Homo sapiens: one gene and its partner. The protein of the gene in region 1 purifies or fractionates together with the protein of each later gene. This does not show direct contact. Each region holds a gene or a part of one and is shown on either strand. Other genes may lie near its edges.

Region 1 (3,500 bases):
TTCTGGCAGACAGAACAAAATATCACAGACAACCGAAATTTATTTTCTCACAGTTCTGGAGGCTGGAAGTCTAACATCATGGTGCCAGTTTGGTGGGTGAAGGTTCTCTCCTTGGCTTGCAGAAAGCCACTTTCTTTTTGTGTCCTCACATGGCACAGAGAGGGAGAGAATGGGAGAGGAAGAAGGGAGAGGGAGGGTGGAGGAAGGGTGGGGAAGAGGGAGGAGAGAGAGATGGGGAGAGAGAGAGAGAGAGAGAGCTCTCTGGTGTCTCTTCATGATGGGCACTAATCCCATCATGAGGGCCCCACCCTCATGACCTCATCTAAACCTAATCACCTCCTAAAGTCCTCACCTCCAAATACCATCACATTGAGAGTTAGGGCTTCAACATATGAATTGTCGGGGGGACATAATTTAGCTCATAGCAGGAGATGATATGAAAAATAACCAATGATGTTAGTGTTTATAGGCAAGTAAGTAAAGTATATTTCTCATGGCTTTAGAGAGGAGGTAGGATTTGAGCTGCACCTAGAAGTACAGCCCAGGCTGGGAAGCATTTACAGCACAGGGCCCTGAGGCACAGGAACAGCCCTTCACCCCCTCGACAGGGCCATGCCCTTCTGAAGACATGAATGGGGTCAGGGAGGTCAGCGGGAGGGAGATGAGAGACACTGGCCAGAGAGACACCTCCTGCCTTCAGCCAGGTTTTGTTTTTCTGTAGGGAAGGAGATGGTTTGTCAAAGATACTATTTCTTTTTTCTTTTCTCTTCTCTTTTCTTTCTTTATTTTATTTTATTTTATTTTATTTTATTTTATTTTATTTTATTTTTTGAGACGAAGTTTTGTTCTTGTTGCCCAGGCTGGAGCGCAATGGCATGATCTTGGCTCACTGCAACCTACCTACACCTCCTGGGTTCAAGCGATTCTCCTGCCTCAGCCTCCCAAGTAGCTGGGATTACAGGCATGCACCACCATGCCTGGCTAATTTTTGTATTTTTAGTAGAGACGGGGTTTCTCCATCTTGGCCAGGATGGTCTCAAACTCCAGACCTCAAATGATCTGCCTGCCTTGGCCTCCCAAAGTGCTGAGATTACAGGTGTGAGCCACTGCACCTGGCCTAAAGCTACTATTTCTTAACCTGAGCAGGGCTGAAATTTTAGGGGCTTTCTTCCCAAGGCAGGTTTTGTGAGCAAGACAGCAGCAGCGCCACCATCCCCAGAGGAGGACACGGTGGGATTGAGGGAGGAGGAGTTCTTGGAAGTTCATTTCTGTGGGTAGTGTCATCTGAATCACGGTCAGAAATTGCCATTGGGGAGATACCATCAGGGATAACACATTGTTCAGCAGAAGAACCTCTAGATCTTTCAGTGGTGCCATGGCCTGCGGTAGCTTTTTGGTTTTCGGGTCTTCTGGGAGTTTGGATTGAACAGACACCCCGGATACAGATCATCCACAGGATGGAGATCTTGACTCACAGGGCCTTTGGTGTGGCATCTGGGTGCATGGACACAGCCTTCCCTACAGAATCCCACAGAGGGAAGGCCATCCAACTCTTCTTTATGTTATTTTTATTGGACTGTCTTCAGTGGGCAGAGAGTTGAGGTTTAGGGTTTTTTGTTTGTTTGTTTTTGGATCTTCACTGTTTCATTGTGATAAAATATACATAACATAAAATGTATCATTTTAACCATTTTAAGTATACTGCGCAGTGGCAGTAAGTATATTCACATTGTGAATTGTTTCCTCTTCTCAAACTGATGGGGTTGGAGAAGGTTTGGTTTTAACTGTGGCTCCAGGAAGTCATACAGTGATACCGTCTCAGTTCGCTCTCTGCACAATGGCCTCACCATCAGATGTCCTGTCGACTTGGGTAATCTTTCTGCTGCCATTTCTCTCTTATTCCTTTCTGTTTGTTTGGGTTTAAAAAAAAAATTATCTGCTTCAATCAAAAGCACTTCTGTGAGACTGCCCTCCTGTGGGCTAAGTACTTTGTACAGAACCTTGCATATTTCTCCCCAGGGTCCTGTAAGGTAGTATGATCACCCACCCTTTCCAGATGAGGAAAGTGAGCACCACAGATGTAAGTAACATACCCGAGGCAGTGTAATTTCAGAGCTGGGACTTGATTCTGGACTCTCTGATTCTTCCTGCTTCATCTAGACAGGGGTGTCATTGTACAGAGTCAAGCACAGCTTCCCTGTCTGGGCACATTAGTGTCTACTCGAGAAGGTTTCTAGCATCTGCACGGATCTGGGTTTGTATTATGTGAACCATGTTCCATTAGGATTCTTCACTGGGGCCTTTAGCCAAAAAGGATTCACTTAAAAATAGCTTCATTACATACCACAGATAAACTGCTAATGGAATTTACCAAACTGTTAAATTAAGCTTTTCAACTAATTACACACATACTATGAAAGTGTGAGTTTAGCTTTGACCGTGGATTCCTCCCAAGGCAGAGAATTGGTGCACGTTCTCTGGCTAGCAGGGGTTTGGTCACCATCTCAGCTCCTGTTCTTGGTCATGATCTGTTTTGCTTTCCTGTCCCCTCTTGGTATCTCACCACAGCTTGATTCTGCATTTACTCAGGACACAGTTTGTTCCTAGGCTGTGGTTGTCCTGGCCACAGATACTACAGAGTGTATTTGCTATTTCCCCAGCGAGCATTCTTTCTGGCATCTGACACATCTTCTGCGACGTGTCCTCTGGCACATTTCCTATTGCTCGTCATTACCCTCCCCATGGACTGCAAGCCCCTACTGTGTGTCTCAGAACTCAGATTTTTGGGTTGAACTTTCTTTAGGGCACAGGGTTCTGATGTGGCTTAACTCTGGGAATGAAGTCAGCTGGGGAAACAGCAAAGCATTCAACAAACTTCTGGGTGGGCTGCATGCTTCATAATAAGATAATTTGTCAAATGCCTGCCATGTGCCAGGCATTTTCTGATATAGGTCTTACCATGTCCTTTTTACAGTTGAGGAAACTGAGGCTCAGACAGGTTCAACAACTTGTGTGGGTTCACACCAGACACCTAGTCCCGGTATAGACACCTGCACCGTGGACACCTCCCCCAGGCTGTTGATCCCCCTGTGCCTGACTGGCTTCCTACAAAGGGCCGACCCCTTGGGTTGCAGGGTCTGCTTCATAACAGAGCTCTCTCCACACGCCTGTAAAATGGGAGGCAGAAGCCGCCGACGCCGTATCAGGTGAGCTGCCCCAGGCACAGGCCATCCAGAGATATAGGGATGGAAAAGGCCAGTTTAAAAGTCTGATATAGTACTTCGTTTTAAGGAATGCAGTTTTAGTACATTGAACTGCAGCTTGAAGTGGAACCAGAGACACAAAAAGGAACTGCCAGGTAAAATGAGTGTCAATGAAAAAAGAAAAGTTACTCAGCTTCCATTACGTAGTCACACATCGCAAACTAAACGTATTTTTAAAAAATGTACAAGCCCTATTTACAGAAGTTTGAAATAGAATGAAAAGTTCTAATTTGTACT
Region 2 (4,185 bases), on another chromosome or scaffold:
GGAACAGTTCTGTGCTATTTCTGCCAGGGGATGCCAATTACCAGGTCATTTATACGAATGCCAACTCAGGCTCTCCATCCCATCTCCTTGCGCACATCCGCAGCCAGCAGCACCGCATCCAAGCACTTCCATCCCTGGGACGTTCCTTCCCTTGGGGAGAATTCAGAGAAACGCTGCAATCCGTAGGTTAGCTCCACATAATAGAAAATGCTGTAATTTGGAAACTGCATTTTTCCTCTCCCCCCACCCCCATAGTTAACAGAATTGAGCATGCAGGTCTGATGACCGCAGTATACAGAGACTGGAGGGGTGAGACGCTAACCTTTGCTCCCTCCGTCCTCCCTCCTCCATCACACAGGTGCTTAGCGCACTTGGTACTTAAAGATCCAAGATGAAAGAGGCCAGAATTCATGGCCTCCCAGTAGGGGAGCAAGGTAAGGGGATGTGGGTCAGGAGCAGTAGCTCACACCTGTCATCTTTGGGAGGCTGAGGTGGGCGGATCACTAGAGGTCAGGAGTTCGAGACTAGCCTGGACAACATGGTGGAAACCTGTCTCTTCTAAAAATACAAAAAGTAACTGGGCATGGTGGTGGGCGCCTGTAATCCCAGCTACTCAGGAGGCTGAGGCAGGAGAATTGCCTGATCCCAGGAGGCGGAGGTTGCAGTGAGCTGAGATCCTACCGCGGCACTCCAGCCTGGGTGACACAGTGAGACTCTGTCTTAAAAAAAAAAAAATAGCTGGGTGTGGTGGCAGAGGTTGCAGTGAGCCAAGAGCACACCACTGCACTCCAGCCTGGGCAACAGAGCGAGACTCCATCTCAAAAAAAAAAAAAAAAAAGAGGGGGGGGCAATCCTCATCCACTGAGCTAAAGGCTTCAATGGAGGGCAGGGAGCAGAGGACTGGCTGCCTCACACCAAGGCCAGGAAAAGGTGCTTGCAGGTAACACCGGGGAGGGGACAGAGCGGCCCTTTGCATGCCAAAGTGCCTCATGCCTGTAATCCCAGTGTTTTGTGAGGCCAAGGTGGGAGGATCACCTGCGGCCAGGAGCTGGAGACCAGCCTAGGCAACAGAGTAAGACGCTGTCTCTAAAAATAATTTTTTTTGACATGGGGTCCTGCTGTGTTACCAAGGCTGGAGTGCAGTGGCACAATCTCAGCTCCCTGCAAATTCTACCTCCCAGGCTCAAGCGATCCTCCCGCCTCAACCACCCGAGTAGCTGGGACTACATGTGTGTGCCACCATACCTGGCTAATTTTTGGTATTTTTGGTAGAGACAGGGTTTTGCTATGTTGGCCAGGCTGGTCTAGAACTCCTGAGCTCAAGTGATCCGCCCACCTTGGCCTCCCAAAGTGCTGAGATTATAGGCATGAACCACTGCGCCTGGCCTCTAAAAAGAATTTTAAAAAAGAGGGACCTTTCCTCAAAGACAAGATGCTGCCTGCATGGAAGGATTCCGAGAGACGGGAAGGCCACTCCAGGTGTACATGTGGGGTGGCTCTCCTTGTCCAGGAGATATGGAGGGAAGACTGGCTGCCACCTGGGGGGTGGAGGGGGCAGGGAGATGTGGGTGGAAGACACTTGGAGCCTGGGGCTGTGGAATGAGCCAGAGGGTCTGGGCAGCATGACTGGGCGTCCAGCCACAGGAGAATGGAAGAAATTGGTGAGTGGAACGGTCTGGGCACTGCTAGATCATTCTGGTTTGGGACCACAGTTCAACCCAGGGAAATGGCTGGCCGACTGGCAGGAGTGGGACGCAAGGGAGAGCCTGGTGGCCTCCAAAGGAAGGAAGGGTGAACAAGAGGGATGCCCCATCAGTAAGGGTGGGCTGGGCTCAGGTCTGAGAGTGGAGGTGAAGAGCTCAGGGCAGTGAGGGCTGAGGGTGGCTTCCTGGGAGCCGCCAGGCCTCCCATGCCCCATCGGTGAGGCCCTGCAGATGTCCCCAGAGTGGGTGGGATTGTGGAGGAAACGATGTCTGTCTGCCTGGAGCTGGGTCTTGAGACAGGTCTCCAGGTCTCGAAGGAGCAGCCCAGGAGGGGGTTCAAATCCATCCTTTATGTTCCCAATGCCAACTGTGTGTGCCAGGCCCGGTGGCCCAGGGGGAGGGACAGAGTCTGGGCCTCACACTGGATCCCAGGCAGGGGGTGGGGTGGGGCAGGATGGAGCCCTGTACTTCTGTCAGGTGGCACAGACCCTAGAGGATGCTCCGGGACTGAACCTTGTGGGGTTGCTTTTTTTTTTTTTTTTTTTTTTTTGCTTTAATGAGCAGTCCGAGAAAACAGGTCTTGTAGAATAACGCGATCCCCTCTCTAGAGATGAGCTTTTCTTCCTGGCTGGCCTACTGGACACATTTCCAGAGGGCGGTCTTGGAGTTTGACTTCCTCTAAGCATCTGGGGCACCGGCAATGGCGAGTGTCTCTCTCCAGCAGGCGCACTGGGAGGGGGCCTCCCAGGGGCGCTAGGCTGCATCCCTGTCCCTCCCCCAGGGACGCCCCGGTGTCCGGAACCGGCTGCGCCGCCGACCCTGATCCTCTGGGCGCCGCACCCCGCCAGGGATCCCGCGGGGTGGAGGTCACCAACCCCGGATGGGTAGTGACCGCGCCCGGGCAGCCTACAGTCGTCCCCTTCCCCGCCGAGCGTCCCCGGTCCAATTCCGGCCCCCCCAGCCGCAGGGACCCCGCTCCCCGCGCCAGGCCCCCGCGCCGCCACACTCACCGGAGCTGCCCTCGCCCCGCCCGGCTCGGCTCCCGCTCGGACTGCGTGGCCGCGTGGCCTGTGGCCCAGTGGCCCGGCCGGGGCGCCGAGCGCGGCCCCCTCCCTCCTTCCGCCGGTCGCGCGGGGTCCCCCGGCCCCGCCTCCACCCCGCCCCCGCGGCCGCCGCAGCCGCTGCCAAGGCAACCAGGCGCCGCCAACACGTGACCCACCCGCGGGAGAGCCGCGGCCACGTCACCCGCCGGGCCGGGAGGGGCGGGGCTGGCGGCGCCTCCTCGGAGAGTGGGGGGGTGGGGGTCCCCGCCTCACCTGGAACCACCCCGGGATCGCGCGAGGGAGAGGAGCAGGGGAGGTGGGAAGACCCCGACCCGCGCGCATCCCTCCTGCCCCAGCTCCTGTCCCCGGCCCCAGCTCTGGGAGTCAAGGCGAGGCCCCCCACCGCCCCATCGGGGGTCCGGCTACCCACAGACCACGAGCTGGGCTTTCCCTGCCCCTGGGTCCGGGCGCAAAAGGGGAGCCCCAGGCTTGGCAGGGTGAGCCTCGGGGGGTGCCCAGCATTGGACGCTGGCTGCGTAGAGGGGCGGGGAGTGGGGACAGGGCGGGCGGGTGCAGGTGGGCAGTGGAGGGGAAAGGAAGGTGGGGAGGGGAGAATCCGTCTGGCCACGCCCGAGTTTTCACAGGATTTTTTTTTTTATTTTTTTGAGACAGGGTCTGGCTCTGTCGCCCAGGCTGGACTGCAGTGGTGCGATCACGGTTCAATGCAGCCTCGAATTCCTGAGCTCGAGTGATCCTCTGCCCTCAGTCACCCAAAGTGCTGAGGCTACATGTAGGCAGGAGCCACCACACCGTGGTAGTTTTTAAAAAATTTGTTTTTGTTTGTTTTTTGAGAGGGAGTTTTGCCCTGTCACCCAGGCTGGAGTGCAGTGGTGCCATCTTGGCTCACTGCAACCCCCGACCCCGGGGTTGAAACGATTCTCCTGTCTCAGCCTCCGAGCTACAGGTGCACGCCACTAGCCTGGCTACTTTTTTGTATGTTTAGTAGAGATGGGGTTTCACCATGTTGGCCGGACTGGTCTTGAACTCCTGACCTCAGGTGATCCTGCCTGCCTCGGCCTCCCAAAGTGCTGGGATGATACATGTGAGCCACTGTGCCCAGCCAAAAAAAAAAAAAAAAATTCTTTTTTTAGAGATAGAGTCTTCCTGTATTGCCCAGACTGGTCTTAAACTCCTGGCCTCAAGCAATCCTCTCTTAGCCTCTCAAAGCACTGGGATTACAGGCATGTGCCACAATGTCCAGCTAATTTTTAAATTTTTTAAAAAAATTGAGATGGGTCTTGCTATGTTGCCTCTGCTGGTCTCGAACTCCTGGGCTCAAGTGATCCTCCCACCTCAGCCTCCCAAAGTGCTGGGCATAGAGGCATGGGCCACCTTGCTTGGCCCCTGCCCAGGGTGTTGGATGGCACCATGAAGAGCTT

What was found. The genes of interacting proteins can lie anywhere in the genome.
Region 2: the proteins of CRACR2A (region 1) and ORAI2 purify together in Homo sapiens (co-immunoprecipitation; one study listed by IntAct). This does not show direct contact.

The regions. Positions count from the first base shown.
Region 1 is NC_000012.12:3,743,110-3,746,609, reverse strand, and holds part of CRACR2A (EF-hand calcium-binding domain-containing protein 4B), read left to right. Parts: intron 1-3,500.
Region 2 is NC_000007.14:102,432,190-102,436,374, reverse strand, and holds the start of ORAI2 (protein orai-2), read right to left. Parts: upstream 2,801-4,185; 5' UTR 2,714-2,800; intron 174-2,713; exon of another isoform or gene 151-173; 5' UTR 42-150; intron 1-41. UniProt on the Homo sapiens protein: Pore-forming subunit of inward rectifying Ca(2+) release-activated Ca(2+) (CRAC) channels.